Linked DNA regions of Homo sapiens: region 1 is linked to region 2. Evidence: fine-mapped expression QTL. A gene starts in region 2. The other region holds a variant in brackets. All regions are shown on one strand. Distances are from middle to middle.

Region 1 (14,715 bases), 20 kb after region 2:
GAATCACAAATCAAAATGTGTAGTTTACAAATGATATCTCAGCCCTGTCATTTTTGTTTATAAAGAATAGTAGCACATTCTAGCTTCTTATGAGATTACCATTGTGCTGCTTTTTTTCTGCCCAGTTACGTGATTGCACAGTTGTGGGCTTTTAAGTGGTGTCCTGTCAACTGCCACCATACTTGCCCAGCATGGAAACTGTGATAAGGAGGTTTTCTTTGTTTTCCCAAGTTGACATGTAGAGTTGAACAACTCTGCAGTCTCATTTGTGGTAAGACATTATAGTATTGTTAAGTAAAATTACAAGCTGTGTGTACCATGGTTGGAGGAGAAACACAGAACCACTGTGAAGCTGGAGATTAAGAGATTTATCATAAGGATTAATCCTTACACAATTGTGAGAGTATGTGAAGAATTCTCTGGAAGGTTGATATAGGCCTGTAGTTGCTGAAGATACACAGGTCTGACGGTCAGAAAGAAAAGCTGGGCAGTCGGGGAGAGCCAGGGACAAACTGAAACCTATCTCTGTCCCTCACTGCCTGTTTTCAAGCCTTCAGGTTGAGTTACTTATTTTGTGTGAACTACATATTTGTCCATAGGATATAAATATCAGGCTAGAGCTTTTAACAGCCGAGAGAATTTTTTCAATTCCCTTCACATTTGGATAGTACTTAATTAGGAAAATAATAATAATCTTCCATAGCAGAATCATAAGATAGTAAAACCCCTCTTATTCCTTATTTTAGCATGGAAGAAAGTGCTTAGTCACCTGTCAGAGTCTGGTCTGATATGTTGTGGTTAATCTAAAATAACATCTTGACTATATTTTATATTTCTTCAGCATCCAAAAATTATGCCTCAAGAAATATTTATATGATATGCGTAACTTAGGGCAAAATTGACATCTTAGTGAATGAGTAGTGGCCGCATAGGGAGATGAGCATCTCCTGGGCTTAAAGAAACAGTCCTATTCTTTTATGGGAGGAAAGGAGTGCTTATAGCTATTTTCAAGACACTCCTGAATTTCACGTGAGTTATGTACAGCTCCTGAACGGATATTGAGGTTGCCTGTTTATGTCCTAACCAAGCCATTGTAAATTAGCTAGACCAAAGTCTAGCTGATTTTTCCTTTTTGACTGAATGCAGCCGTTTTCAAAGCTGCCCTGGAAATTACTCTGGGACAGGAAGAAGGTAAAGGAAGGTGGCTTGTAGTCACGATGCAAGAAACTATGAAATGGTGGTGAAAATGATTCTTAAACTAGACTCTCTACTCCCAGTCTACTTCTCCCCCCACCCCCCCCCCCGCCGTCAATTCATACTCCATACTCTACCATCATATTAATTTTCTTAAAATAATGTTTTCAAAGCTGGGCACAGTGGTGTGTGCCTATAGTTCGAGCTACTCAGGAGACTGAGGCAGGAGAATCTCTTGAGTCCAAGTGTTTGAGTACAGTCTGGGCAACATAGTGAGACCCTGTCTCTACTAAAAAGTAAAAATAAATACTTTTGGGTGACCTCATTGGCCTTCCCATAGTGCACCTTTAGCTACAGTACAATATCCAAGCTCCTCATTTCAAGGTTCTCACTGGACTGGCCCAGCTTCCCTTCTTTTATTTCCTGCTACTCTTTCATATGTACACCATACTTAGCATTGTCCCAACTTTACTCTTCCTTCTCTCCTGTTAGAGAGAAAGATTTTTATTTACCCCTCTCTAATGCTACCCCTACTGCATTTCCTCAGGAATCTCATGTTATCGTCTTTCTTTCCAGTGTACTTTGATTCATCCTGTAATCATTTCTTCTTCCTCTTGCTTCTTTAGTTGAACAGGTTGTTTGTTTGTTGCAACAAGGTCTTACTCTGCCGCCCAAGATGGAGTGCAGTGGCCTGATCACAGCTCCCTGCAGCCTTGACCTCCCGTGCTCAGGCGATCCTTCTGCCTCAACCCCTCGAGTAGCTGAGACTACAGGCACTAGCCTCTGTGCATGGCTATTTAAAAAATTTTTTTTGTAGAGATGAGATCTCACTTGGTTGCCCAGGCTGGTCTTGAACCCCTGGGCTCAAACAGTCCTCCTGCCTCAGCCTCCCAAAGTGCTGGGATTACAGGTGTGAGCCATTACCTGGCCACTTGAATGGGTCTTTACCCTATTTTCCTTATTTTCCTATACTCCTCTTAAGTACCTACAAAGTGATTTTCATTTTCTCTGTGCTAAAACTATTCTCTCATACGTTTCCTATAATCTAACCACATCCTGTGACTGCCTTAGTTCTTTTCTCTCTTACATGGCTTCTGCATCTAGTTTTATTAACTATTGTTGTCTTTTTGAAGCATTTCTGCCCTTGAGGTCCAAAGTGCTTGACTTCTTTCCTTTTTAAATCATTTTAACTGCTCCTTTGTGTTTTCTCTTAGTTTTCTTTCCTGTTTTCTCGAAGTGATACTCCTCAGCTTTTGTTCTGTGGTCTGGAACCTTCTTTATGCTCTCTCTTGTAGTGAACACACATGTACTCAGTCTCAGTAGAGACCTATTAGATACCTTTCTCATTTCCTTCTCTAGCCTTCGTGCCTACACCCCTCATCCCCTCTTTTTTTTCTTTGTTTTGCTTGCCTTTTCTCTGACTCTGGCACCACACCTCATGTCAAGGACCATAACCATTGAAGGCTGAATTACTGCAGCATTCCCCAGACTGCAGTTCTGCACACTGCCATCAAGTTAATCTTCTTAAACATGTCATCCTCCACTCCCCTGCTGACAAACCAAATGTAGCTTCCTTTCCCTTTTACTCCGTAAGCGATGCGCATGCTCTTTTCCATATTGCTGTCCATATTCATGCCTTTTCCTTGATTTGAATATTCCCTCTCTCTACCTTCAAGCCAACTAAATCTTACCTCTTTCTGCCTGAACTCAAATTCCATCTCCTCTTTGCTCTTCAAGCCTATGCATCTTCTCCCTTTTCTGAACTTTTCTTGTACCTATGTCAGGCCCTGACTCTAGTGAATAGCCACCTGGGAACTTCTACCTCAGCCTAATGGCCACAAGAACCCTCCATTCTCAGCTGCCATTACTTACTGTCCTTGTCCCCACCCTACCCCAGCCCCTCATCCTATCCTGGCAGTAGTTCAAGTTCAAGGTGGGATTCCCAGCCACCATTGTTGTTTTATATTAAACATCTTATAGGAGATTTAAACATAGTCCAAAGTAGGCAGAATAGTGTACTAATGTACACTACCCATCTTCAAGTTGCTTTATTTATATTTCACCATTCTCATATCCCCCCATAGGATTATTTCAAAGCAAATTCCAAACGTATCACTACCTCTTTAAATACTTCATTAGTCTCTCTGAAAGATAAGTATTCTGTTTTTAAAACAACCATAATGCCATTATTAAACAAAGTAGGATTTTCTGATGGCAAGACTAGGGAGAAAGTGGAGACAGAGGGACAGAGTTTACATGGAAAATACATGATAAATTATTATAGGTATCCTTTATTTAAAAAAAAAACCCTCCTAGCAAAAGCCCCCCCCCACACACACACCAAAATTGTGTGTTTACTTCAAGAAACAAGACAGAAACTATGAGACTGCTTTCTATTCCTCTGTGGGCCAGGGAAGGAGAAGACTTGGAGTCAGAATTAACAGGGACTAATAGAGGAAGAGAGTAAAGCTAATAGAGAAAAAAGTAAAGCCCTCAGAATAAAAAAAAAAAAAAGATCTGGTCTTACTCAGAGGTAATTCCGCCCACTCTGCTCTTCCCTCCAAATATTTTCCCCTAGGCCCTGCCCAGTTGGAGCCTTTGAGAGTCCCTGTGAATGACTGGGGGAATTATTTTCTGTACTTGGCTGGTTTTGATAAAAGGTGTCCTAATCTCATCATATTCCTGGCAGCACGAGGAGATCTGTTCCTGGCATCCCAAGTTAGAATTCTAGACATATTTTCCCACAGAAGCACTTCTATATATGGTTAGATTCTATGGTGCTTGAACAATATAAATTTAAAAGACTTGTGGATTTTCCTGGGAACCTAACCGCCATGTATGACATTACTTCTGTGGGAAATTGCTTTTGAATTCCAAATAATTGACTTGCAATGAAATTTGGGTTCCAGACTGCCTATAAAGATTACAGGTGTAATCAGTCTCACTGATTTAATAGTCTTGCCAGATTATATGTTAGGTTTTTTCCCCCTCCCAAGTTAGATTGCAGATTGTATAAAGTCAGACTTTGTTCTTTCATGTCTGCCAGCACATTGCAGAGCATGTAGGCACTCAGTATAAATTTGTCAATGGCTAGATTGGTTGAAAACTCAAGTATTTGTTTAGCCTCACACATTTTCTCTTTTTGACTCTTTACTTTTTTCCTTCTTCTTTTCCTGTAAAAGGTTGCCATCCAAATAGCAATGCCTGGTGGGTTGAAGCAGTGGAAGTATTTGAGAACAGTAAAAGACCTTGAAGAGGATGTATTTTTATTTTATTTTTAATTCATAAAGCCATCTTTCCACTGCCACAACTAAGCTCCCCTCCTGAACTCACCAGTAGAAGATGGAAAAGGCAGTTGCCTGCTTCTATTTCTTTGTACCACAGTCATTGTTTACCTCTGTGGCCCTCTCTAGTGACTGTCTAAACCTAAGAAACACAAACTGCCTTGACTGATCAATTTCCAGACAGCTAGCAAACTTAGCATCAGGTGTGGAAATTCTAGAAGACTTAACATAGATGTTTGTTTTTGTACAGAGAAAAAGGCTTTTAAATGAAAGGTTTCAAAGAAATATGTCTCTGTAGTTTATGACTGTTAAATATTCTAGAAAGGGAAAGCTATAAGAATAGGACTTTGGGCTGGATGCAGTGGCTCACACCTGTAATCCTGTCACTTTGGGAGGCCAAGGTGGGAGGATCACTTGAGCATAGGAGTTTGAGGCCACCCTGGGCAACATAGTGAGACCCCATCTCTACAAAAAATTTAAAAATTAGCCAGGCGTGATGCCGAGTGCTTGTAATCTCAATTACTTGGGGGTCTGAGGTGGGATGATCACTTGAGCACAGGAGGTCAAGGCTGCAGTGAACCATCATTGCACCACTGCACTCCAATCTGGGCAACACAGTGATACCGTGTCTAAAAAAAAAAAGAAAAAGGACCTTGCCCTAAGGGTTTTTGCCTAAAACAAAATCTCCTCTATTACCAATCTGGGCATTTATTAAGCCTGGGAAACAAACTTCTTAAATGGATCAAATTCCCAGACAACTAGCCATCTGAAAATGAGGCAGGACATACTAGTGAATTTAACATAATTGTTTATTTTCCTAGGGTAGATAAAAATAGCTTTTTCAGTTTGGGAATTTTCTCCTTTCAAAAAATTGTTTCTGTTGTGTATTAGTGTTAAATATGCTAGAAAGGAACAGCTGTAAGAATAGGAATTTGTCCATAGGGACCCACACTCAAATTGCTTCATTACTTTAAATAGCACTAAGCTAAATATATGTGCTTTCTGAGAAATAGCCATGTATTTCCAAGATGACATTTATGTATCAATTTATATAAACAACAGGCTCTGGAATATACAGAATAAGCCTAAGACATTGCTGATACATGTTGAAGAAATTGATCCAATGTACAGAAAGAATATTCATGACAATTTGTAGAGAACATCTTAACTAGAGTAAGTTATAAAGCATCTTTTTCCCTGTTCCTCTAGGTAATTATGCACTTTATCTTGTTCTAGGAGTATACCATGCTGTGTCTGTTATGCGGCAAAGCCGAAGATACTATCAGTATTCTCCCTGATGACCCCCGACAAATGACTCTCTTATTCTAAGGATCCTTCTACAGATCTGTTATAACTATATTGTGTTGGTTTACAATACAGCAAGCCTGATGGTTTGTCTTATTTCATTCATACTGAAAATTCTTTGCATATTTTTTTTCTGCTTAGACTTACTTATTCTTTGAGGAAAAAAGGTAATGTAGGAGCTCATTGTTCTCTAGAGCTGAGCTCTTCTGCTAAAGTTCAAAGTTCACATCAGTGTAGCCAGAGTGAAGCATCTTTGTTAGCAGTTATGTGGTCAGAAAACAACTAGAATGGGAGCACACCTGGTGCCCAGATTTTGGTTTCCAATAAAAGGAACCAGGACTCCTTAGAAAATGAACTGATTCTAGAACTGGGATATGAACTGTACAAGATGAGCCTAGAGTATCTTGTGCCACAGAAAAATGAAGTACTGAAATTAAAAAAAAAAAATCATAGTGATTGGGAGTATGTCAGCATGATCGAACTGAAGGATCTCTGAAAGGCCACAGCTGGAGCAATTTGAGTAACAAAATAAAGTAGTATTGGGTTATAACCCAAACTATATAATAAATATTTACAAGCCCAAACTAATATAAATGATTGAATGGGAACAAATCTCTTGTGCAGAAGAATTTCAAATAATTTATGTAGATACTCCCCACTTAGTGGGCTCTGCATAGTGACTTCCTTGCAGAGTATAATATGGAAAGGGGGGAAAAGAGTAACTTTACAGTGGAGAAATCTGACAGACACCAGCTCAGCCAGGTGATTGAGGTTAACATCATCCATGATAAGCCCTTTTGATAGCATGTATCCTTGATAGCATCACATCATACAGAATGTGATAAGAATGGCACTTTACCTCTGTGGTCCTCCTCCCCAGAACTCAGAACCCAAGTCTGATCAGGAGAAAAACATCACACAAATTCCAATTGAGAAGCATTCTTTAAAATACCTAACCAGTACTTCTCAAAACTATCAAGGCCATAAAAAACAAGGAAAATCTGAGACATGGTCACAGCCAAGAGGAGCCTGAGAAGACATGACTGCTAGATGTAATGTGGTATCCTACATGGAATTATATACCACGAAAAGAAAAAAAGGTCATTTGGTAGAAACTAGGGAAATCTGAATACAGTGTGGACTTCAGTTAATATAAATGAGAAAATGGTTTCATTGGCTTTAAAGGGATTTTAGAATATCTTACTTTGCATAGTTTCATGAGCACTGGCCAGGAGGTTATAAACTGGCATTTAGGCCTCTCTGCCATTTAGTAGCAGTATAGTCATTAAGCAAAGCATTACTCTGGACTTTATTGTCCTGTTTCTATCAAATTGGACTAACAAAAATTGATATAATACATTCATCACAGTATTGTTAGGAGATTTAAATGAATTAGTGAATGTAAGATACTTTAGAAAGCATGTAAAGTACTAGAAACAATGAGGTGGCTTCAATTAGTGCTCATTCTGAGACCTAAATTTAAAGGGTCAGGCATTAGAAACAAAAGTGTTTCTTCATATCTAGGAGATTTGGAAATTCTGAACTAAGGTCTTATAAGAACAAGAAATGAGCAAAGTGTTCATTGTAGATACTAGGGAAAAGCTTTGTTGAATAACAGTAATGATGATAATATCTGAGCTTTATTAAGTACTTACTACATGCTAAGAGCTTTTTAAGCACTTATTTAATCCTCATTAACAAATTCATAAGGTAGGTGCTATTGATAGTTTAGCCATAACCAGATATGGCTTGTTATTTGTAAGTTATCATGAAAAGGTTTATATTCACTATTCTTTATTTCAGTGTAGCACTTTTAGAGCCAAAAAAACTCAGGCACAAAGAAGTTAAATAACTTGCCGGGTGCGGTGGCTCACCCCTGTAATCCCAGCACTTTGGGAGGCCAAAGCAGGCGGATCACCTGAGGTCAGGAGTTTGAGACCAGCCGGGCCAACATGGTGCAACCTCGTCTTTACTAAAAATACAAAAACAAAAATTAGCCAGGGGTGGTGGTATGCACCTGCAGTCCCAGCAACATGGGAGGCTGAACAGGAGAATCGCTTGAACCCGCGACAGGGAGGTTGTGATGAGCCAAGGTCATGCCACTGCACTCCAGCCTGGGAGACAGAGCAAGACTCCATCTCAAAAACAAAAACAAAACAAAACAACAACAAAAAAAGAAGTTAAATAACTTGTTTAAGATCACACAGCTAGTGCAGTTACCCCCTCTCAGTAATTATGTTTGGCAAATATGAAATACAAGGATCTGGCAAGGTTAGGAAGAGGTTAAGAATATCAGTGACAGTACTCTGAGGCATCTGGGCATGTCAGATGAAGATTTATTATTCAGAAAAGTTAAGTCAGCTGTTGCAGGGATCAGTTGTTTTATTCCTGGAAAATGTTTTTCATTTTGCTGCAAATCTATATCTGACCTGCTGAGGAAATCGTTTGGTGAAATGAATCCAGAAAGCAGAGAAAATGCTTCATTACTTTAAATAGCAGCATTAAGCCCATTATAGCCTCTGAATTGTCCCTTCCTTGAGTTTGCTAATGCTTCCAACTTAGTCATTTGAAGCCCAAGAGTCTAATTTTATATGCCCTGCCAATGTCCTCATCTATTGCAGAATGTATAATTATCTATTTGTTTTGGACTATATGTTACAAAAATTTAAAACATAAGATCCTCTCTCTATATTTCATTATTGGTGAACCCACATTGTGCTGTGTTTTGTGATATTTTATCATTTTCTAGATTCTTATGTGGATCTAATAA[C/A]GACCACTTGAACCCAGTTTCACAGAATCCTTATTTTTCTGTTCAAATTAGGAATTAGGGACATGGATGAAATTGGAAATCTTCATTCTCAGTAAACTATCGCAAGGACAAAAAACCAAACACCACATGTTCTCACTCATAGATAGGAATTGAACAATGAGAACACATGGAGACAGGAAGGGGAACATCACACTCTAGGGACTGTTGTGGGGTGAGGGGAGGGGTGAGGGATAGCATTAGGAGATATACCTGATGCTAAATGACGAGTTAGTGGGTGCAGCACACCAGCATGGCACATGTATACGTATGTAACTAACCTGCACATCGTGCACATGTACCCTAAAACTTAAAGTATAATAATAATAAAATAAAAAAAAAGGAATTAGGCAAAACATGGCTCTTCTTTTTACTTTCCTTCCTGAGATATAAGAAGGAAGAGAAATCACCTGTGGGGATAATTGGAAACATGGGGATAATTGGAAACGTGGGCTTATCTTGGCACCTCCTTTTTCTCTAATCATTCTGTGATGTACAGGTCTGGCTAGTTAGGCTCCTGAAGTTAAAAGCTCAGCCACTATTTGTTGTTTTGTTTGATCTAGCTCTTTCTCACATGGTTTTAGGTTCTCCCAGTACTAATTTAATTGACATCAGATAGCTTGGGCACAACCAGATATGGCTTGTTATTTGTAAGTTACCATGAAGAGGTTTATGTTCACTGTCCTTTATTTCAGTGTATCAAAAGTCCTTTCGGTTTCATTCTTTCATGTTGTGAGCAGGGCTAGTTATTTGAGGCGCTCAATTTAAAAATGTATGTTTTTTTTTTACTGTAGTACAAGACTGTTGTAAGATACAGTATAGTTGGATAGAAAAGGAATTAAAAGATCTGGGTCTAGAATTAGCTTTGTCACCTGCTAATGATGGGACACTGAGCAAGTCACTTATCCTGTCTGTACCTCAGTGTCTTCAGTGGAAAACTAGAAACCATCATGCCTCCACAGAATTTTTAAATCTAATGATTTTTAAATCTAATGCTGTGTGCAGGCAGCTGTCAGTGGTCTTTATGAAGAAAAATCTGAGCTAGAAGAAAGCACTGTTGTGTTATGGTTAAGAGTAGAGGCTTTGGAGTCAGACTGACCTGGCTTTAACTTTCAGCTTTGCTGCTTCCTAAGCTGTGTGTCCTTGGCAAGTGTCTTGCCCAATTACCTTTTCTTTTAATAGAAATAACAATTTTTCATGGGATCTCTATGAGGGTTAAATAACCTAGTGTATATAAAGTACCTAGCCCAGTCTGTGCCCATAGTAAATATTAAATGAATGGTAGTTTGGATGATGGTTGTGATGGTGATTATAATAAAGTTCTAGAGTTTGACTCAGTGTTTTTGAGACAAGGTCTCATCCAGGCTGGAGTGCAGTGGTGCAATCATAGCTCACTGCAGCCTCGAACTCCCAGGCGCAAGCAATTCTCCCACCCTAGCTGCCTGAGTAGCTGAAACCATTACAGGTGTACATCACCATGCTCAGCCGATTTTTTTTTTTTTTTTTTAATTTTTTGTAGAGACGAGGTCTCACTGTGTAGCCCAGGCTACATAGTGAGCTCCTGGGCTCAGGCCATCTTCCCGCCTCAACTTCCCAAAGTGTTGGGATTATAGGCTTGAGCCACCATACTGGGCCTCAGTGTCTCATAAACTAAGGAGAGATAGCTATGGGAACATAGTCATGAAGATAATTATCGATTTCAGTGTCTTTACCCTGGCCTCCTAAAATCACTTGTTCCAAGCTCTGGTTTTTTTGTTTTGTTTTTTGTTTTTGTAAGAGCCCTCAGGTTAGTGATTCTCTCTGTCCCTCCTCTGAGTTGAATAGCATTATCTCAGCACTTCTGGGAGAGTTGTTAAGGAGACTTCCCCCTCCTTCTGGGTGCCCCTAGGGAAATCTGATTAAAAGATTTTTGTTTATCTAGAAAAGTGGGTGATATTTTAAAGCTTTGCCTTGTCTGTTTATGATCACAAGCTAATACTTCTGAGGATGATAAGGGGGACAAACAAGATGAAGAATAAAGGAAAGGAAACACTTTCTAATTTCTCTTCATTTTAACAACAGCACAACTAAATATTTGGTAAACCTAAACATCCTTTTAAAATAGAATCTTCCAGTCTTGCCTTCCCTGTTTCCTCCTGAGCTGAATAGATCAGGTTCTGTCTGAAGCAAATAGTGTTTCCCCTCCCAAGTGAAGAGCCTTCATTCTAGCTTTATGGCCTTCTCTTGACTTTCTGCAGAATAACTTATACTGTAATTCCCATTCCTTTGGGAATCCCTAAATAATTCTTTGAACTTGGGCCTCAAGGGAAAGACTGAACACATTGTACTGGTGTCTCAGGCTCTAAGTTGCCTGTGGCATGTTTCCAACACCCGAGATAGCTGGCTCTGTTACTGGATGTAACAACAGGCTATGGTACTGTCAAGGTGATGACTAGCATCCAAGAAGAATTCTCTATTTTGTCAGGAAAGCAATTTGTCTGCAGTTACTGCTCTAAAATCAGTACATGGTCCTGCCCCATAATAATTCATACCCCAGCTGTTGACTTTAAGAGCAGGAATCTGAAAGGCTTGAGGTTTCAAGAGTGAAGGTAAGGGTAGCCTTAAGTTAGCAGAAGGCCCTGCAGAAAGGTGTCAGGGGATTCCCACTGTAATACTCAGGTTACCCTTTTGAAATAAAGCACTGTTGTTGACAGGTTTAGTTGAAGGTCAGAAAGTGGGGATCCTAAACATCTATTCCACATTCACTCTCATATGATGCAAGTGCTTAGAAAATGGTTAGGGTAAGCAGAACAATTAAAGGAAAAACATTTTCCCTTCAGCATTGGGCTTCTCAAGCAGTGTGTCCAGTTTGGAAAACTGTCCCTTCAGGGTTTCAGTGAATAGAAGTGAAAATATTCCATCTAGTGGTCAAAGAAGGGAAGATGAAATGAGAAGTTTCCAGGATGAGGTCTGTGGGGCAAGGTGACAGGCAGTGGCCTCTCAGCAGGTATCTTTTCCAGAACATGATAGAACCTGACCTTGGCGGTGGTGATATGTTTTGATTATGTCTGCACTGGATGAGGAATTGGGGACACCATCCTTGCAAGGCCTCTGAGCAAAACTGTCCTCACAGTGAGGAATAATGATGTTGCAAATGGCAGATTATAAACAGCCTGACTCTGAAGGGAGGCTCTCTCCCATCCCCAACCCCTTCCTTCTTACAGAGGAAGAAATGAGTCCAGTCATTCCTGCCTCTATTTGTCTGGAGCCTGAATTTGTGAATATGTGATTTTGAGAAGAATGAGGGTGTAATGTGAACTTTATTTATTTATTTTGAGACGGAGTCTCACTCTGTCGCCCAGGCTGGAGTGTAGTGGCGCCGCCATCTTGGCTCACTGCAGCCTCCACCTCCCGGGTTCAAATGAGTCTCTCACCTCAGCCTCCTGAGTAGCTGGGATTACAGGCGTGCGCCACCACACCTGGCTAATTTTTTGTATTTTTAGTACAGACAGAGTTTCATCATGTTGGCCAGGCTGGTCTCGAACTCCTGACCTCAAGTGATCCGCCTGTCTCGGCCTCTCAAAGTGCTGGGATTATAGGTGTGAGCCACCACACCCGGGCCATGAACTTTAAAAAGGAGGGAGAATCAGTCTAGCAAAGGATCAAACACCCGAGATGTTTGATGATCAGGAAAAAGATAAAGTGCTGTTTGTGTTCTCAGTAACTACACCCTCTATGCCCTTGCTATTGGTAAACATTAACTAAGCTGACTGCCCAGGAATTTCCCAAGGCACAAGTCAGATCTAGTTGGCCCAGTACCCACAGTGCTATTGATGCTTCCTGACTGTAATCCTCCTAACAGCCTCCCAATATCCCCAACCAAAGGGCTCATTGTCTTTTCCTCCTCTACCTCCCATTATCACTTTCTCTTTTTCCCCAGTTCTGAAGAAGAGCTGTAAAGGAATAATATAATTCACATTTCCCGTAACTGCACCTGCCACTGCAGACCTTGGCCAGCGCTTGCTTTCCTGTCAGTAATTAGGGCATCCCTTGATCCGTCAGATCCTCCCCTCCCAAAGCTTTGTGTGCTAGCAGCTCCTCTATCCCACCTGCAGTTTGTAGCTTCCCTCCGCCCTCTGTCAAAGAACACACACACAGGCTGGCCGTTTCCACACCTGCCCTTTATTGGTCTCTTCTAGCAGAGTGGCTCCAGGCCCTTCACGCCTCTCAGACACCACCCATGAGGGTTTAGGAAGGTGCCATCATTCTGTGAAGGCCCAGAGCTTACCCAAGTCTTGGAGCCCAAGTTGAATCACCAACCAGAGGGTTGGGAGAGGAAAAGGAAACAGGCAGAGGGGAAAGGCAAGGCTCTGCAGTGAAGGGGACTGATATCAAGGGAATGCTGAGGTCCAGCAGTGTCTCCTGAAGGCATGCTGCATCCTAAGGCTCCTCAGGACTGGATGGAGTAGGAGATCTGTGTGTTGAGCAGTTCACATCTATATGGCAACTTTAAGGAGGCGCTTGATGTCAGGCTCAATGTTGATGGTTGGGAAGGTGCGGCTGTAGCGTCGGAAGGGCTCTCCCTCCGGCCCTATGAGGAACTTCTCAAAGTTCCAGGCCACATCTGAGCGGCGCACAGGGCTCCAAATGATGAGCTTGGGATCGGTCATGAGGGAAAATGGGTCATCATAAGGGTAGGGGAGCTTGTCCTTCAGGTAGGCGAAGACAGGATGCTCGTTCTGCCCATTCACCTCACATTTTTGGACAAGGGTGAAGGTGGGCTGGTATCCACCCCCAGGACGGACATACTTGAGACTGTTCAGGATCTCCTCATTCTGACAGTTCTCCTAGGGGAGGAAAAAGACAAAGTGCGTGGACAGTGGGTGGGGGAAGAGAAAGATCCACAACATGAAACTCTTTCACCCTCCTACACTCCCTCCCCAGGGTCATTCTTTTTCACTGTGAAAGAGAGAGAGACAAGACAGACGAGGTGTTGCTCACTGCAGCCTTGAACTTCTGGGCTCAAGCATTCCTCCTGCTTCAGCCTCTTTAGTAGCTGAGACTACAGACACAGGCCACCATGCCCGGCTAATTTTTTTTTTTTTTTGTAGAGATGGGGTCTCACTTTGTTGCCCATGCTTTGGCTGCTCTTCAAGATTTAGCACTTCTGAGCTGTTGCTTTTGTCTCCAGTCTACCCTGAGCAGTTCTTAAGGTGTTTGAAGCAGAAGAAAGAGAAAAGAGGCTTAGGTTATACTGCTTAGAACCTCCTCTTCAACTAACCTACCGACCCACCTACCCATAAATCCATACCTACACACACACCCCTTTCCTTTCCTCTGCCCTGGTTTTGCCTCGCCTGCTTTCAATTGCACGTGTGTTGAGTATAGCCTTTGCCTCTGCCTACTCAGCTCCTTGAACTGAGGGTGAAATTGAGACCCAGAGGAATGGGATTTACAGCTTCTTGCTTTCTTCTTGCCTTGTCCTAGAACTGAAGTACAAATGGGAAGAAGCTTTGATGAAGGAAGACCCCCATCCAAGAACATCTAGTTTTCAGGTGCCATAACAGCAGAGCAAGTTCAAGGCAACAATGAATGTGTACTCTAAATGGAACTACTTAGTAACCAACAGGCATGAAGTAAATAGGATACAGGATTTAGGGTTTGGCAATAGGCCAGGGGGAGGGGGAGTTGAGGAAATAAGTGCTTGATGGCTAAAGATTGTGAGTATGTAATTATCATTCTTTTCTTGAGTAGGCTGCTACCCAAAGACTGCTGCACCTCCTATCCACTCACTGCTCTCAGCTACGCATGCTTTGGCTCAAAACCTGGTCCCTGCCTTTCCCTCCCCACTGCCATCCCTGTCCTATTCCCTCTCAGCATCACCATTCATGACAATCCAAAAGGCCTATGGGAACCCTTCTTTTCCACCTCTACCTTTCCAATTTAACAGACAGATACCTTCCTCTGGGAGAAAGTTCCTGCTTCTGACCTGTGAGAACTAACTAGTTCAGTCAGTTCCAGGCCATCATGACATCATGAGCCCAGAGCTGATCTCTAGTGGACTTCTCTGTTTTTGTTTCTGTTTTTTTTCCTGAGACAGGGCCTCACTCTGTCACCTAGGCTGGGGTGCGGTGGCACAATCATAGC
Region 2 (17,559 bases):
TGAAGTAACAAACTGCTAAGTTTATAGGTCATTTCCTAGAGAACAAGGAGGTGTTAAATTGGATGATATTAGGGCATGTCCTTCTTGTTGAGTCATCCATGTCTTAGGCAGAATCTTTCCTCTGGTGGGCACAGAATGAAGACATGATTTAGCAATTAATTTATTGGTAATTTATTAGAACAAAAGGTATTATTCTCTAACCAAAACTCTCCTAATTTTTGTTTGTTTGTTTTCTTTCTCAAATTTCAAAACCATTGAAAGCAAAGACCTGGAGTGAACAGAGCAAAATCCAGATGAGACAGGTGGAATGGTAACTGCCTTTGGCTATGGAATTTGGAGTAAGGTGGTGGGAAGGGTGAAACTGTGTGTTCAGCTTTTGTAATCAATCAAAAAACACTTACTGAGCACTTATGTGTCAGGTATAATGCTAAATCCTGGGAAACAAGCATGATTCTCAAGTTTGCAGTCAAGAGCTGACTGCGCATACTATAATAGGGGAATTAATAAACTGTTATTGTAGGTACTTGGAAAGGGATACTAATAGGCAATCTTTATGGAGGAGGTGATGTTTGAGCCATGTCTGAGAACCTGAATATGAATTCAATAAGGAGACAAAGGGCTATTCTGGGCAGAAGGAGCAGCACACAAAAAGCTAGAAAGAGGACTTTGGTGTGGTGAGGGCCATGAGGAATTGGTGAGGTTAGAAACAGGAAATGTGGGATGACAGCAGGAAGGGAGGTAGGGAGCAGCAGGACACGGGGCTACAGAAGTAGACTGGGCCAACTTTTAAAAAGTCGTGGGTGCTGTAGGAAGGAATTTGGTCTTTATCCTGAGGGCAATAGGGAATCATGGAGCTTTTAAAGCAGTGACATACTGAGATTTATGATAATTGTTACGTTCTTGGCGCTGTCTACTGTAGTTGCTTAATAATATACCTCAGTTCTCTCAAACCTTGCTATGCACTTTCTTATTAGTTCTTTTTTTTTTGAGACGGAGCCTCGCTGTCTCGCCCAGGCTGGAGCAATGGCACAATGTCGGCTCACTGCAACTTCCACCTACCAGGTTCAAGTGATTCTCCTGCCTCAGCCTCCTGAGTAGCTGGGATTACAGGCACACGCCACCATGCCCTGCTAATTTTTTGTATTTTTAGTAGAGATAGGGTTTCACCATATTGGCCAGGCTGGTCTCGATCTCCTGACCTCAAGTGATCTGTTAGCCTTGGCCTCTCAAAGCGCTGGGATTACAGGCATGAGCCACCACTCCCAGCCCTCTCATTAGTTCTCAAAGAGGATATTGTAAAGAGAAAAAAGTACAAAGAACTAGAAGGGTTGGGAATCTGTGATTAGGTAGAAACCAAAGTAGCACTTACAAGGAAGGCTCCCTTTCTCTTTGTGCCTTGAGGTAACTTTCCAAATCCACTTCCTGGAGGAGCCTGGCCTTTCTCCTTCTCCATCTCCCGTGGTTTCCCTCCCTAACACGACCCTTTTACCACGGCATCCTCTCCAACACAACATGCTCACTCAGTTTTTCCAGTTACACACAAATCACCTTGTACAAATTTGTTAAAGTACACAGTCTCATATTATCCACTTCAGCAGACACACATTCACACATCGGGCAGTTTGAGTTATTGCCAGTCCTCTTCCTTAATTTATTATCCTCCCTTCTACCACCTCAGGCTTAAGGCCAGAGTTACTTTTCTTAAAACCCTTAAGTCATATGTAGAAACACATATACCGAAAACATTTGTGTATCATTTTATAAAGCAAGCCAATGAGGTAGGTATATTTATTATTGTCATTATTTTACAGATGAGAAAATTGAAGACCAGCCAATAAGCAACTTGTTTAGGGTCCTTGAATTATTAAGTTACAATGAGGACTAAAATCTAATGTTTTAACTGTAAATCACCATGTTATTTTCCAAATATTCCTTGCAGCTTCTATATACCCCTTCTCTATTCCAAGTCAAAACTACTCTTTTCAACACTACCCAAGTTTTTTGATTTCTATGGATTTTGTGCCTGGGTTACCTTGAAGTAAACCCTCCATCTGCTAGCCATTCTCCAGGACAAAACAGAAGTCTCTTGACTTCCCTTTCCTCACTTCCCCGGTTTCTCTAAAAATTCCAAACTCCTTTACCTCTCAGAGTCCATATAGGTGAAAGAGAATAAAAGTCTGCTCTAAGTCTTACTATGTCCTTGAGGCACACATTGCGGGGGAAAAAACCCACAATAAAATATCTGAAACCCAATTGCATTTTGATTATTAAATTCCTTCTGGCTAGTTGTGGTGACTCATGCCTGTAATCCCAACACTGTGGGAGGCTGAGGCAGGAGGGTTGCTTGAGCCCAGGAGTTCGAGACCAGCCTGGACAACACAGTGAGACTCATCTCTATATACATACATACATACATAAAATATTAAAAAATCCACCCCAATCCATGCAAGATTTGAGAGAGAATATTTCCCCAGAAGCTACCATTTAAGAGATTTCGACATACCTGGTGAAAACTTTATATGGAAATGATAATCTGTATTTGAAAAAAAGTGAGGAGAGCAAAAAAAACAGAATCAGAGGGAAATAATGGCTATTCCCTTGCTTTTAAGTGTTATATGTTTGAAAAAATGGATATGTTATTTGTAAATTTATGTTTAGTAACTAGCGGTAAACTTGAAATACTAGAATACATTATAAGTCTTAATCCTAGGTAGTCTTAAGAAAATGAATCTCTTTTAACTATCATCTTTTGAACCTATATTCACATTGGTTTTTAAGATTTTTATTTATTTATTTATTTATTTATTTTGAGACCGAAGTCTCGCACTGTCGCCCAGGCTGGAGTGCAGTGGCGTGATCTCCGCTCACTCCAGGGTCGGCCTCCCGGGTTCACGCCATTCTCCTGCCTCAGCCTCTTGAGTAGCTGGGACTACAGGCGCTCGCCACCACGCCCGGCTAAGTTTTTTTTTTTTTTTTTTTTTTAGTAGAGATGGGGTTTCACCGTGTTAGCCAGGATGGTCTCAATCTCATGACCTCGTGATCCACCCACCTTGGCGCTTCCCAAAGTGCTGGGATTACAGGCGTGAGCCACTGCACCCTGCTGGTTTTTAAGATATTTTAAGTTACATTTTTTCCTCTTTGTTTTTCAGAGCTACTTCTTATTTGGGGGCTACTTTTTAATACTGAGGTGTAATTCACAAGGGGCTGCATTTTTTGATAAGGCTTCTTATAAATATTGCTGAATGTTTTGCTCTAATCTTCTAAGCAGGGCCATTTTATTTTTTGGAGTCACTTCTAAAGTCATGTGTTCATTAACTTTGGAGACTGCTTTGGATATGAGTGCTGATACAAATTAAAACCCAAGTAGACCTCATTGTTTGTCACTCTACGAATGTTGACAACGGAAGGAACACCTTGCCCATAGTATACTGACTTCTGGACTGAAAAGCAAACGAAACAATTCCATTTTCTTTTTTGCATACATCAGAAAAACAACTACTGTGTCCAGTTCCCTGATTGACCTCAGCAGATGAAGTGAACAGATAGTGTTAATTCAGATTGGAGAAATTATATGAATCTTGGTGTGTGTAGATTTATAATCTACAGGCAATATTACCTAAATCAGATATTTACAGTTTCACATGTGTATATAGGCTCCTTCACACCCATTTCCATATCCATTGGTAACTGAACTTTCTAAATTGGCATTGAAGCATTACAATTTTTTTTTGCACCAATTTTATAAACTTAAGCAGTGCAATGCCTGTTTTTTTTCTAAGACAAACCAAAGGTAATTTTCTCAAGTTTCTGCTGCCTTCTTTAGCAGAATTTGATGGAGGGTCTTTTATACATTTGTAATAGATAAAAAATAAACCAGACTGCAAATCATTTTTAAAATCCTAAACCACGTACCAAGTTTCTTATTCAAATTGTACAGGGTAAGTTTAAACTTAAATTGCATTCTATTAGCCAATATGACTGTACTTCTGTAAGCATAGTTATGTTGAAATAAAGTTTTAAAAAGCAAAAAATAAATAAATGTGCTTGAAAGGCTTGAGTTTATCATCTGAATAGGGGAAGTAGCCTGAAGTTGGGCAGGAGAACCCTAAAGGGAAGAAAGTCTAACTCTCCCATTGAGCTAAGAAAAAAACCTGCTGACCCTGAACTTCTAGGAGTGCTTTTGTACCTGTCCTCAGCCAGGCTCACCTGTATTCACTGGGTTAACCCAGAAATGCTGCTAATTCATTCATATCAGGCAGGTGACATCAGGTGATGACAACCACAGACTCTTATTTCACACTTTCCCTGAAACAATGGAAAGAATGACCTATACCTTCACCAAGCAGATGAGCTTCCTCTACTCCATCTGTGAAATGGGTCTGAGGATACTACCATAAAGGCTGGGGCACTTATTTGCTCCTTTCAACAAAAGATGAAAATAATAGATATGATCAGCATTGTGTCATCACTTCAGACTCTTGGCTTAAGACAGCATAAGACAAAAGAAAAAATAGAAAGAAGGTGTTAAAAGGAGAGTCAAACTGCACTCTTTAGGGAAAATTTTCATCTTACCACAGGGATGTAGTTTAGCACATGTAACTGAGCCAGCAATTAGGGCCATTTTAACATTTAGATTTTCTTTAATCAATTCCTTTTACAAGAGGTGATCTCATACGTAAACTGCAACATGGTTTGTTTGATATATCTCATGGACATCACATATTTATTAGAGACCCATAGGGGCAGGGTATTTCCCCAGAGAAAATTCTATTAGAAGATAAAATTGATTTTGCAAATTTTATTTTATATAGTTACCTATAAGAGAAAATATTTTTCTGTTTATTGTTTTTCTTATGTTACATCACTACTTGTTCATTTCATTCAGGTGCTAATCTTCTGCTTTGTAGCCTCTATTTTCCTTTCTCCCATCTGTCAACCTCAGATACTTTTATATTCCCATTACCACAGTCACACTTTAATTTCTGGTCCTGGCTACCTCTTCCCCCAAGTCTCATTTCCTGCCTCTCTTCTCTGAATGTGGCTAGATTTAAATGGAGGACTTCATTGGATAGATAGCCCTGAGCTCTTGAGCTTTTGTGACCATAAATATGACAACTTTTTTTTTTTTTTTTTGAGATGGAGTCTAGCTCTGTCGCCCAGGCTGGAGTGCAATGGCACGATCTCGGCTCACTGCAACCTCTGACTCCCAGGTTCAAGCGTTGCTCCTGCCTCAGCCTCCTGAGTAGCTGGGATTACAGGCATGCGCCACCATGCCCAGCTAATTTTTGTATTTTTAGTGGAGACAGGGTTTCACCATGTTAGCCAGGAGGGTCTCGATCTCCTGACATCATGATCCACCCGCCTCAGCCTCCCAAAGTGCTGGGATTACAAGCATGAGCCACCATACCCGGCCGACCTTTTTTTTTTTTTATCTTGCTCATTTTAATAACAAGTTATGATATAACTCTGGGAAGGTAAAAAAATTTCATAAATATGTAGATTGTCTTTCATGCCTTAGAATATGAAATCAATTCATGCTAATGGGTGTACTCTTTAAGATCTATGACTTTAGTGTAATTTTTAATTAATTTATTTTTGTTGTGTATATTCTCAGTGATGAGGCAGAAAGCTATACATCTCCCCCTTGTGGTTCCTGCTAACGTCTGCCTTTGGCATGTCCATTTTTTTCCCAGTTCCAGTAAGTCCCAATAAAATGCAGCTAAAATAATCTTTTTTATTTATTTATTTTTTAGGGACAGAGTCTCACTCTGTTGCCCAGGCGGGGGTGCAAGCAGCATGATCATAGCTCATTACAGCCTCAAACTCCTAGGCTCAAGAGATCTTCCCATCTCAGCCTCCTGAGTAGCTAGGACTGCAGGTGCACACCACCACACTAGGCTAATTTAAAAATTTTTTGAGGTCATCACTATGTTGCCCAAGCTGGTCTTGAACTCCTGGCTTCAAGCTACCCTCCTGCCTTGGCGTCCCAAAAGTGCTGGGATTACAGGTGTGAGCCACCACACCCAGCCTAAAATAATTTTAAACCACAACTCTGGCAACACTCTCCTGCTCAAACCTTCAGTTGCTCCCTACCACATGCAGAATAAAATCCAAACTCCTTGGCATGGTTCACCTGAAATTTCTATACAAAACAAAACAAAACTCTGCTTTTTGAAATTCTAAACATGCTTTAAGGCCCAAATTCCTCTTTCCTAATCCTCCCCCTGGGTGTAGTCTCATCATTTTGTGTTCTTATACCCCAATCTGCCAGTAATTATTAGTATTTGTGCTCATTTTATCTCTCAGACTAAATTGTAGCTGGGGAGTAGCAAAGGATTAAAAGTCAGTATTAGGCTTTAAAAACAGAGAAACCATTTAAAAATGGATGAAGAGAAAGAATTGGGCCAGGTGCAGTGGCTCACACCTGTAATCCCAGCACTTTGGAAGGCCGAGGCAGGTGGATCACTTGAGACCAGGAGTTCGAGACCACCCTGGCCAACATGGTGAAACCTCATCTCTACTAAAACTACAAAAAATTAGCCGGTTGTGGTGGTGTGCCCCGGTAGTCCCAGCTACTTGGGAGGCTGAGGCATGAGAATCGCTTGAACCTGGGAGGCAGAGGTTGCAGTGAGCCGAGACTATGCCAGTGCACTCCAGCCGAGGTGACACAGTGAGACTGCCTTAAAAGAGAGAGAGAGAAGAAAAAAAGACTAGCCCTGTCCAATAGGAATATGAGAGCTACATGTGTAATTTTTAATTTTCTAGTAGTCACATTAAAAAAGCAGGTGAAATTAATTTAATAATACATTTTTATTTAACCCAGTACGTCAAAAATTATTTCAACGTAATCATATAAATTTATTAATGAGATTCTTATATATTTTAATACTAAATCTTCCAAATCTGGTGTGCAGAATGTACTCACAGCACAATCTCAGTTCAACTTGCCATATTTAAAGTGCTTTATAGCCATAAGTGGCTAGTGCTACTGTATTAGAAAGAAATTGAGATAAGGATAGCAACAGAGTCCTAGCCCTGGCTGACTACTGAGTAGCTTTGTTACCATAGACAAGACCTTTAACCACTCACTTCTGTGGTTTCCTTATCTGAAAAGAGGAGACATATTTTTCTTACCAACCACATAGGATTGTAATAGCATAAAATTAGAAACTGAAATGAGGACACTTTTGAAAGGTTGAAAATGTCATACAAATGGGAGGTATTATAATTATTCTAAGAATAAGGTAAACTCTGATGGCTCTAGTTCTTGCAGTGTTTCTTAGCACACCTATGATTTTTAATAACAGTTGCAGATACTTACTAGAAGTTGAAATACTAAAGGTTACAACTTCAGTGCTTCCGTGGAAAAATAATTCCCATATTAGCAAACCCATTTAAACTGGTGTGCTTTGAAATGGTTATTAATCTCTTCTTTAAGGAATCTGGATCCCAGAGTCTCCCAGGCTCCCCAATCTTTCTTCCCTGACATGACAGCAATAAAGCAGGGCTGAGGGAGGATGTTGATGTTCCCATTGGGGTAGAGGAGTGTGATAAAGACGCATTGTTCAGAAACAGAGACAAACTTCGGAGATTCGTCTGCAAGTTAATTAGGTCGTTGCGAATAAATAAGATGCTTTCAATACAGAGAGAAAGGATGAGGCGGGGCAACAAGCACAAGCATTTTGAGACCCACAGGATTGGGAAATGATGCAGGAACAACTGACCTGGCCATTTTTCTTTCTTTCTTTCTTTTCTTGGAAGCACATATGTTTATTGGTTTTTTAATCTGTGAACCAATAGGTCATTTATAAATGGATGTGCAAATCTGAAATCAAAATATCTGCAGTCAATTCAATTAGATAATTTTTGAAATCTATTTATTTTTAATATACTTTAAGTTCTAGGGTACATGTGCACAACGTGCAGATTTGTTACCTATGTATAGATATGCCATGTTGGTGTGCTGCACACATTAACTCGTCATTTACATTAAGTATATCTCCTAATGCTATCCCTCCCCCCTCCCCCCACCCCACGACAGGCCCCGGTGTGTGGTGTTCCCCACCCTGTGTCCAAGTGTTCTCATTGTTCAATTCCCACCTATGAGTGAGAACATGCGGTGTTTGGTTTTCTGTCCTTGCGATAGTTTGCTCAGAATGACGGTTTCCAGCTTCATCCGTGTCCCTACAAAGGACATGAACTCATCCTTTTTTATGGCTGCATAGTATTCCATGGTATATATGTGCCACATTTTCTTAATCCAGTCTATCATTGATGGACATTTGCATTGGTTCCAAGTCTTTGGTATTCTGAATAGTGCCACAATAAACATACATGTGCATGTGTCTTTATAGCAGCATGATTTATAATCCTTTGGGTATATACCCAGTAATGGGATGGCTGATGACCTGGCCATTTTTCTATTTACATAGTGCTTGCCCGCCACTGAGGTGCTTCTGTGACACCTGAGAGAGATAGAAATACGTTCCTCGTTGCTATGTCCTCCAGAGGACTCTGGAATGACCAATTATTACTAATATTTTAAGTGTTTTTTTAGGAGATTTTCTGCAGCACTCTGAGTGTCTCTTCCCAAACACTTCGGTTACTGTTTATTCACCTGCTGAGATCTGGTCTCTTATTCACTCTCATTGCCTTAAGAAATGGTACAGAAATGTATTCATTAACATTTCAGATTTGTATATGCGGTAGCGAGAAATAATTCCCTTTCTTGTGTGTCGTGATTTGCCTTTCTTGTCAGCCTAAGCTCAGGAAGGTGTCTGTGAGAACTTCGCTCAGCCCAAGATCCCTTTCCCTTCCCGTCACATCTGTTAGCGCACAAGATTTCTTCGTCTGTCTCCAAAGGTTTCTGAAGCCCCACCCTTTGCCCACGCACGGTGCCAAGGAGACTGTGCCCTGCCTTGACAACAGTTGCTAAGGGGCGGAGACTTCGGCTCGGTTCCCGAGACGGAATACCCAGGAGTCGAGTACTTGGGCGCATGCGGCAACCGTATCTCAGTTCTCGCGAGGTTTCGTCTTCCCGGAAGCGTTGGAGGACATTCCCTGTTGACTGCGTCGCGATGTGTGGCGACTGTGTGGAGAAGGAATATCCCAACCGGGTGAGCGACTGGGCGCTCCCTTGGCCCGCGGGCGGCCCCCGAGGTGTCTCATATCCAAGGCTGGCCTTCCCAGAGAGGCCGTACGTGGGGCGGACTCGGCCGCACTGCCGGTCCCGGTGACCCAGTAGCGGTATTTAGGCACACCAGGGATGGCCTGTGGCGGTCTGCACCTCTGGTACCCGCCCTGGCGGCTGACCTCAGTTGTAGTGGCCGTTCTCTTGAGCTCCAAGGAGCAACAGAGGAACCCCACCACCACCACAACCCCCGTCGACAACCGAGGGACTCCCCCACCCCCACTTCCGGTCTCATCCTCAAGCTCGATTTGATGAAGTACAATTTTCTTACCGAATTCTAGCGCTGGAGGGGACCTCTGTGGTCATCTGTTCTAACACTTTTGCAGATGAAGAAACCGATGCCCAGAGAGGGGAAATCACTTGCCCAAGTTCACATTCTAGTTGCATGGATGAGAGCCAGGACTAGAATTTAGGTTTCCTGCCTGTTACCGCCTTCTGAATCTCAGTTACTTTCAGGTTCAGGAGTTTGCAAAGCTTGTCTATTCTCATTCATTCAAGGCATCCTTGTTGAACATTTATATATGTGTAGTTAGATTACTTTGCTAGGCCAGAAAGGGATTATTTCTCCTCTCTTTGAGACAGGGTGCTGCTGTTGCCCAGGCTGGTCTCAAATTCCTGGGATCAAGTGATCCTCCCGCCTTGGCCTCCGAAAGTGCTGGGATTACTGGCATGAGCCACCACGTCCAGCTGGATTATTTGTTTCAGAGAAGAAATTAAAAGGCACCTTTGGTGCTGCCTAACAGCTTACAGTTTTGGGGAGTATGTGACTAACAAAAAATGAGTAGCTCAGTTCAGAAATGCTATTCAAGTTTAGGGAAAGGGGAGGGCAATAGGGGATAGTGCTGTTCTCCCCTGAGAAAAGGTGGACATCATCTAAGACTTGAAGGACAGTTGTAATTAGGGTAGAAAAGAAGGTGAGGAGCTGGAGGATGGGGGAAAATTACAGAAATGGAATTTGTGCATTGGTTGGGAAGGAGGGAGAAAGTCTCTGTAGTTCCTTATGTCTTAGTATCTTATGGGTAATACTTAGGCTTTTGAGTAGCATGTATAACAGTATGAATTCTCCTGTAGTACAACTACTTTGAAAAAGCGGGTGAGCCTTATAAAATACAGACATGACCCAGTGATTCCCATTCTAGAAAAATGCATGTGTATATGCTTCTGAAGACTTTTATAAATAAGTGTTCATAACAGCATTATTTTTGTAGTAGATTGGAAAAGTAACTGATACATTCATTAGAATGGAACACCATTAATGAATGAGGAATGGAAGTGAATGAATTAGAGCAGTAGTTCTCTACCAGGAGTGATTTTTGGCTCTTAGGAGACATTTGGCAATATCCAGAGACATTTTTTGGGTGTCAAAAGGGGAAGTACTACTGACTGCTAATGGGTGATGCAAGGGATGCCGCTAAACATCCAGCAATACATGGGACAGCCACCACAACAAAGTATCACTCCCAATGTCAATAGTGTGGAGGTAGAGAAACCCTGAATTATAGCCGTGAAACCAAACTAGAATTACACAGCAGCCTGAAAAGTCTTACAAATAGTGTTGATGAAAGAACACATAAAGTATAATTCAAAAAGAGGCAAACCAAAATATATTATTCAAGGATGTACCTGGGTGGTAAAACTGTAAGGAACGTATACAATTACTGTTAAGTCGAGATAGTGGTTACTCCTAAGGGATTAGGGTGTGATCAAGAAGGGTCACATGAGAAAAAGTCTTCCCGGGTGCAAGCAGTGTTTTATTTCTTGATTTGGGTGGTGGTTCTACAGATGTACACTTTATAATCATTTCTTGTTCGCTACATTTATGTTTCATGTACTTTACTATGTACTATTTCATTTTTTTAAAGTTTAAAAAGATTTTTATGAAACCAGTAATAAACATGAGCTATTATGAGACCATGAGGGAGGAGTTTGCAGTAGAGAATATTAAAGAGATTAGGTTGGATTCTTTTTTGTTGTTGTTTTTGTTTTTGAGATGGAGTCTTGCTCTGTCGCCCAGGTTGGAGTGCAGTGGCATGATCTCGGCTCACTGCAAGCTCCGCCTCACTGGTTCATGCCATTCTCCTGCCTCAGCCTCCCGAGTAGCTCGGACTGCAGGTGCCCACCACCATGCCCAGCTAATTTTTTTGTATTTTTAGTAGAGACAGGGTTTCGCCTTGTTAGCCAGGATGGTCTCGATCTCCTGACCTCGTGATCCACCTGCCTCGGCCTCCCAAAGTGCTAGGATTACAGGCGTGAGCCACCGCGCCGGGCCTTAGGTTGGATTCTTAAGAGTGGAGTTATTGTAAAACTTAAAAGTCATATTGAGAAGTTTAGAGTTTACATTTTAGGCATTGGGCCACCATCAAAATTTTAATAGAGAAATGATTCTGAAATCTGTTATTTAGGAAAATGAATCTTATGGCTGAATGTTGAAATGGTGGGGTAGAGGGTGTGTAAAGACAGAACTCCACAGGGCATTTGAGGAGCCATGGCAACAGTGGTGTAGGCATGAGATAATGAAGACCTTATTTCAAAGAAAGAATTAGGTTGGGCACGGTTCTCACACCTGTAATCCCAGCACTTTGGGAGGCCAAGGCAGGTGGATCACTTGAGCCCAGGAGTTTGAGACCAGTCTCAAACATGGCAAAACCCTGTCTCTACAAAAAATACAAATAGTCTGGGCACGGTGGCTCACGCCTATAATCCCAGCACTTTGGGAGGCCAAGGCTGGCAGATCACCTGAGGTCAGGAGTTCGAGACCAGCTTGGCCAACATGGCGAAACCCCGTCTCTACTAAAAATACAAAAATTAGCTGGGTGTGGTGGGAGGCGCCTGTAATCCCAGCTACTTGGGAGGCTGAGGCGGTAGAATCGCTTGAACCTGGGAGGCAGAGGTTGCAGTGAGCCGAGATCACACCACTGCTCTCCACCATGGGTGACAAGAGCAAAACTCCGTCTCAAAACAAATAAACAAACAAAAAAAAACCACCACAAATATTAGCCAAGCGTGGTGGCATGCACCTGTAGTCCTAGCTACTTGGAGGTTGAGGTGGGAGGTTGCAGTGAGCCATGATCGTGCCATTGCACTCCAGCCTGGGCAACAGAGCGAGACCCTGTTGAAAAAAAAAAGAATTAACAAGATTCAACCTGTTTAATGTAGAAGTGAATAAGGGGAGACCTATACATGATCACATGATCTCAGGATTTTCAATCTAGGCAACTGGGATGTTGGAAGTATCATTACAGAAATTGGAGGCATATGGGAAGAAAAAACAAAATTGGGGACAAATGGTCAAATTGTTATTAATATCATGCTTCACCTGAGGTTGAGAATATCCGAAGGGTCAAGTGAAGATATAAGACTGCAGTTTGGGTACAACTATGTAGATAGATGAGTCAGTCAAATACAAGTGTCAAAATAGGATTTGTTCTCTGAGGAAAAAAATGTAGAGAATCAAGGACTGAGCTCCAAAGACTAAATTAACTTCAGAAATGAAAATAAAGTATAAGGAAGAATAGTAGAAAAAGGGATCGAGGTGATTGGAAAACCAGGAGAGTGCCTTTCAAAGGCACTTTTCTCTGATTTTATTCTGTTCTAAAATAATTAAAAGACTGTCATGAAGAAGAATTAAACTTTTCTTTGGAATTTTAGAAGGCAGATTTAGAAATAATTAGTGGGTGGATGTTACGGGTCTTAGACTTTGAATCAGAATAAAGAACATTCTGACATTTCAAAATGGAATGAGTAACTCTTAAAGGAATTAAGCTCTCTTCCTATTGTTCAGTAGAGACTAACTGACCATTTGGAATGTCAAGGATCCTTCCAACTCTGGGGTTCTTTGAAGTCATGACCTATTTTTAAGTGCAGTAAGAGCAGAAGCCCACTGCTTTGCTCAGCTTTGCAGAAGCTTAGCAAAGGGAAGGGTAATAAGAAGATGGTGGGCCGGGCCTAGTGGCTCACACGTGTAATCCTAACACTTTGGGAAGCCGAGGCACAAGGATGGCTTGAACCCAGGAGTTTGAGACCAGCCTGGGCTACATAGTGAGACCCCATCCTTATTAAAAATTAAAAAACATTAGCCAGGCGTGGTGGTGTGTGCCTATAGTTCCACCTACTTGGGAAGAGGCTAAGGCAGGAGGATTCCCTCAACCCAGGAGTTCGAGGCTCCAGTGAGCTAAGATCACACCACTGCACTCCAGCCTGAGCAACAGAGCAAAACCCTGTCTACTTAAAAAAACAAACAAACAAAAAATCATTTGTTGGGAAGCTCTAAGTGTAGAATGAGTAAGTAATAGTTAATTATTTATCTTCGATTACATAAAGTTGTTTGGAGTTTTGTCATTTATTTTTACAGACTAGAAATATATAGTACTGAATTCTTAATGGGGCTCTGGCCTACTTGCTTATACTGTTAACACTGAGAATTTGAATTCAAACATGAGTCAAGTTGGAATGAACCATACTAATTTTCTGAACCCAAATGTTTTTTAACTCAATGGTGAACCACATTTTTTTTTTCCTTCAGAAAAGCATTTAGCAAACCAGTCAGAACTAGAACTCTACTACATTTTCTAAAATTACTGAACAGGCACAAAATTGTAATCAAATATTTTTCATATCAAACTGGAAATGAAACATTTCATATATTTTAATTTCAGCTTGAAATTTTGTTAGTAATGCAACAGGAATACAGAAATACATTATGAATCAGTGGGAAAAAATCAATGTTAGTGATATGTTTAAAATTACTTGTTTTGTATTTGTCATTTAAAGCTAAGCTACCAAACTTCATATATTCAAGTTGTTGCTTAGTAGATAACATTGAACCAGATTTAATTAAATGCTGAGTAATATATAATTAGCAAAACAGTTGTATGTAAGAGTGCCTTAAAATGATACTCTGCATCTTAAAATTTATAGTTATAAGTGCCTATATTTAAAAAGTATACTTTTCAATCAATTACCTAACCTTCCACTTAAGACAATGGAAAAATGGGCCAGGTATGGTGGCTCACGCCTGTAATCCCAGGACCTTCGGAGGCCGAGGCTAGCAGATCACTGGAGGTCAGGAGTTTGAGACCAGCCTGGCCAACATGGTGAAACCCTGTTTCTACCAAACAATGCAAAAATTAGCCTGGCATGGTTTTGTGTGCCTGTAGTCCCACCTACTTGGGAGGCTGAAGTGAGACAATCACTTGAACCCAGGAGGCGGAGGTTGCAGTGAGCCAAGATTGCGCCACAGCATTCCAGCCTGGGTGACAGAGTGAGACCATGTCTCAAAAAGAAAAAAAAAGAAAAAGACAATGGAAAAAAAAGAGCAAACTAAACCCAGAGCAAGCAGAAGGAAGGAAATAATAAGGATCAGAGTAGAAAATACTGAGAGAATACAGTAGAGAAAATCAATGAAACAAAAAATTGGTTCTTTAAGAAAAACCGTATTTTCCATTTTTAAACATTCCCTGGCAAAATATATACATTAGCTATTAACTTGTATCATCTGAAATAATTTGCTGGAAAAAAAATTGATCCAGTCTTTATCAGAATAATTACAGCTTTCTCGTAAGATTTTATAACATACTCTCATATTAATTATTCTTACAGTTTTCAGCCATTTCTTCTTGCACACTTGTATACCTTTACAAATCCTTAACCAGGATTTATCTGAATCAGATTTTCTAAGGGTACTAAACATGTCGACTTTTTTCCTTCTTTAAGCTGTTATGGTCTACTGTTATTATTGTGGAATTGATTTGAATTGCATTCTTTTCCACCTATTATGGGAGCCTGAAAACCTTCCCTGAATAATGTGTGCTTTAGTTTACTTTCCCAAATTTGGATGTTAATAGTCTTGCCTCATCTAATAAAAGAACTGTGCCTCACTGATGAAGGTTACTCTTGCTGCTTTCAAATGACCAGGGCTCTTAAAGAAAGTCCCATCCGCTTCTTATATACTGTACTTGTATTTTGCCATTTGAAGCATTTACTTACCAGACAACAGATACATAGATACTTCTCTTCCTTCAGTGTTTTCTTAGACTCACATTCAGCCTACTTTCATGGTCAGATTACAGAGGCTAGGCCACGTTGTGCAAGGAACCTGTGTCTGTGGATGCAGTCCAGTTCAGAGTTATATTTATTTGAAATTGGCATTTAGATCTTTTTAAAAACTGTTTTGTTTTCCTTAATTTTTTGGAGTCCTTGGCAGTCAGATTTTATAGATTCCAGGCAGTCCCAATTCAAACTCCAGTAGACTTTTTTGTAAAGTGTGTAAGCTCATGTTAAAATTTACATGAAACTGAAAAGAACCAAGAATAGCCAGATTATAGGACATAAACTACCTGATTTAAAGACTAACTATAAAAACTATAGTAATCAAGAGAGTTTGATATTAGTGGGAAGGTAGATATATGTATCAAGGGAACAGAATAGTCAAAGCAGACCCACATATATATGGTCATTGACTTTTTTCTACAAAAGCACCATTGTAATTCAGTGGGGGGAAAGACAGTTCTTCAACAAATCTTGCCAAAACAACTGGAAATCCATACGCAACTAAATAAACCTTGATCCTTACCTCATATATAAAATTATTTCAAAATGGATTATAAACCTAAATCTACAAACTAAAAGCTATAAAACTTCTAGAAAAAAATGTAAGAAACTTTGTGCAACCCTGGGGTAGGCAGAGATGTCTTAGGAGAAAAAAAGTATAAATTATAAAAGAAAAAATGTTAAATTGGACTTTATGAAAATCAAAACTTGTTTGCTCATTAGAAGAAACCATCAAAAAAGGCAAATCAATGACGGAGAAAATATATTTGGGAAAAAACTTGTATCTAAGATATATAAAGAACTCTTACAACTCAAAATAAACAACCTAACTTTTTGAAAATGGGCAAAAGACTTGAATGGACATTTCATAAAAGAAGATACATGAATAAGCACCATGAAAAGATGCTCAACATCATTAGTCATCAAGGAAACAAAAGTTAAAACTACAATGAGATACCACTTTACGTCACTGAATGGCAAAAATAAAAAGCAGTACCTAGTATTGATGTAGCTATAGAGCAACTGGAACTCACACATTGCTGGCAGGAATGTAAATTGGAAAACCATTTGGCAGTTTCTTGTAAAGTTAAATATACCATATTTTTACCATATTAGCAATTCCACTTCTACATATTTACCCAAGGGAAAGGAAGACATGTATCCATCCAAGACTTGCACATGAATCTCTATAGCTGCTTTATTCATAATAGCCCCAAATGGAAACAACCCAAATATCTACCAACAGCTGAATCCTACAGGGAATACTATTTGGCAATGAAAAGCAACAAACTACCAGTACCTAGAACAACAGTGATGATGAACATAGGCATTATATCGAGCAAGGAAAATTGGATGCGGGAGTATACTGATTCTGTTTATATAAAATTCTAGAACGTGCAAGACTGGAGATGGAAATCAGATCAGTGGGTGTCTGGGGTGGGATGGAGGTTAGAGATAGACTGAAAAGCATGAAGGAACTTTTTGGGGTGGATAGAAATGTTTTATACCTTCACTAGGGTAGTGGTTACATGGGTATATACATTGGTTAAAAGTCATTCACCTATGTATACCCTTACAGTGTGTGAATTTTATTGTATGTAAATTGTACCTCAGTAGATTTTATTAAAAAAAAAATCAAAGGCTGGGCACAGTGGCTCATTCCTGTAATCCCAGCACTTTGGGAGGCCGAGACGGGCAGATCACGAGGTCAGGAGATCGAGACCATCCTGGCTAGCATAGTGAAACCCCATCTCTACTAAAAATACGAAAAATTAGCAGGGCGTGGTGGCGGGCACCTGTAGTCCCAGCTACTTGGGAAGCTGAAGCAGGAGAATGGCATGAACCTGGGAGGTGGAGCTTGCAGTGAGCCGAGAGTGTGCCACTGCACTTCAGCCTGGGTGACAGAGCGAGACTCCGTCTCAAAAAAAAAAAAAAAAAAAAAAAATCAAAGCAAAGCATTTGTTCTTAATAACTGGAAATGTATACTTTAATCCTAAGGCCCTTTTCCCTTTTAGTAGTTAAGGCAGTACACCTATGATTTAATAACTATGTAGTAATGTCTTGATTTCTCCCACTAGAATTAATGTCTTCCTCAATACATAGAAGGGAGAGATTCCTCAATATATAGAAGGGAGAGATTAATTCTCCCACCAGAATTAATCTCTTCCTCAATACATAGAAGGGAGAGATTAATTCTGGTGCTTGGAATCCAGAAAGACTTCCTAGTGGCATTATTTATGGTGGATCTTAATTTCGCTGATGCTTCTTAAAACTCCTTGAAGGTAGCAACATGTTTGGCTCATCTTTGAATCCTCTGTTGT

The links.
Region 1: its variant is fine-mapped to the expression of CHURC1 in whole blood (INTERVAL, PIP above 0.99).

What each region holds. Positions count from the first base shown.
Region 1 is chr14:64,926,424-64,941,138 of GRCh38, forward strand. All of the region lies in intron 3 of CHURC1-FNTB (CHURC1-FNTB readthrough), which reads left to right. It overlaps CHURC1 (churchill domain containing 1), which reads left to right. Exons shown (of 4, transcript NM_001386928.1): 4 at 5,715-8,945. The coding sequence ends at 5,807. GPX2 (glutathione peroxidase 2) reads right to left here. Exons shown (of 2, transcript NM_002083.4): 2 at 12,735-13,415. The coding sequence ends at 13,065. Among named protein-coding and RNA genes, the nearest start is that of GPX2, 9.0 kb to the right of the region's middle. RefSeq lists a silencer at 55-255 and an enhancer at 2,582-2,651. The variant C/A (reference allele first, on the strand shown) is at 8,554.
Region 2 is chr14:64,905,419-64,922,977 of GRCh38, forward strand. It overlaps CHURC1 (churchill domain containing 1), which reads left to right and starts at 9,037. Exons shown (of 4, transcript NM_001386928.1): 1 at 9,037-9,116. The coding sequence starts at 9,078. CHURC1-FNTB (CHURC1-FNTB readthrough) reads left to right here and starts at 8,943. Exons shown (of 14, transcript NM_001202559.1): 1 at 8,943-9,116. The coding sequence starts at 8,997. It also overlaps the pseudogene RPPH1-2P. RefSeq lists enhancers at 8,837-8,886, 9,037-9,306.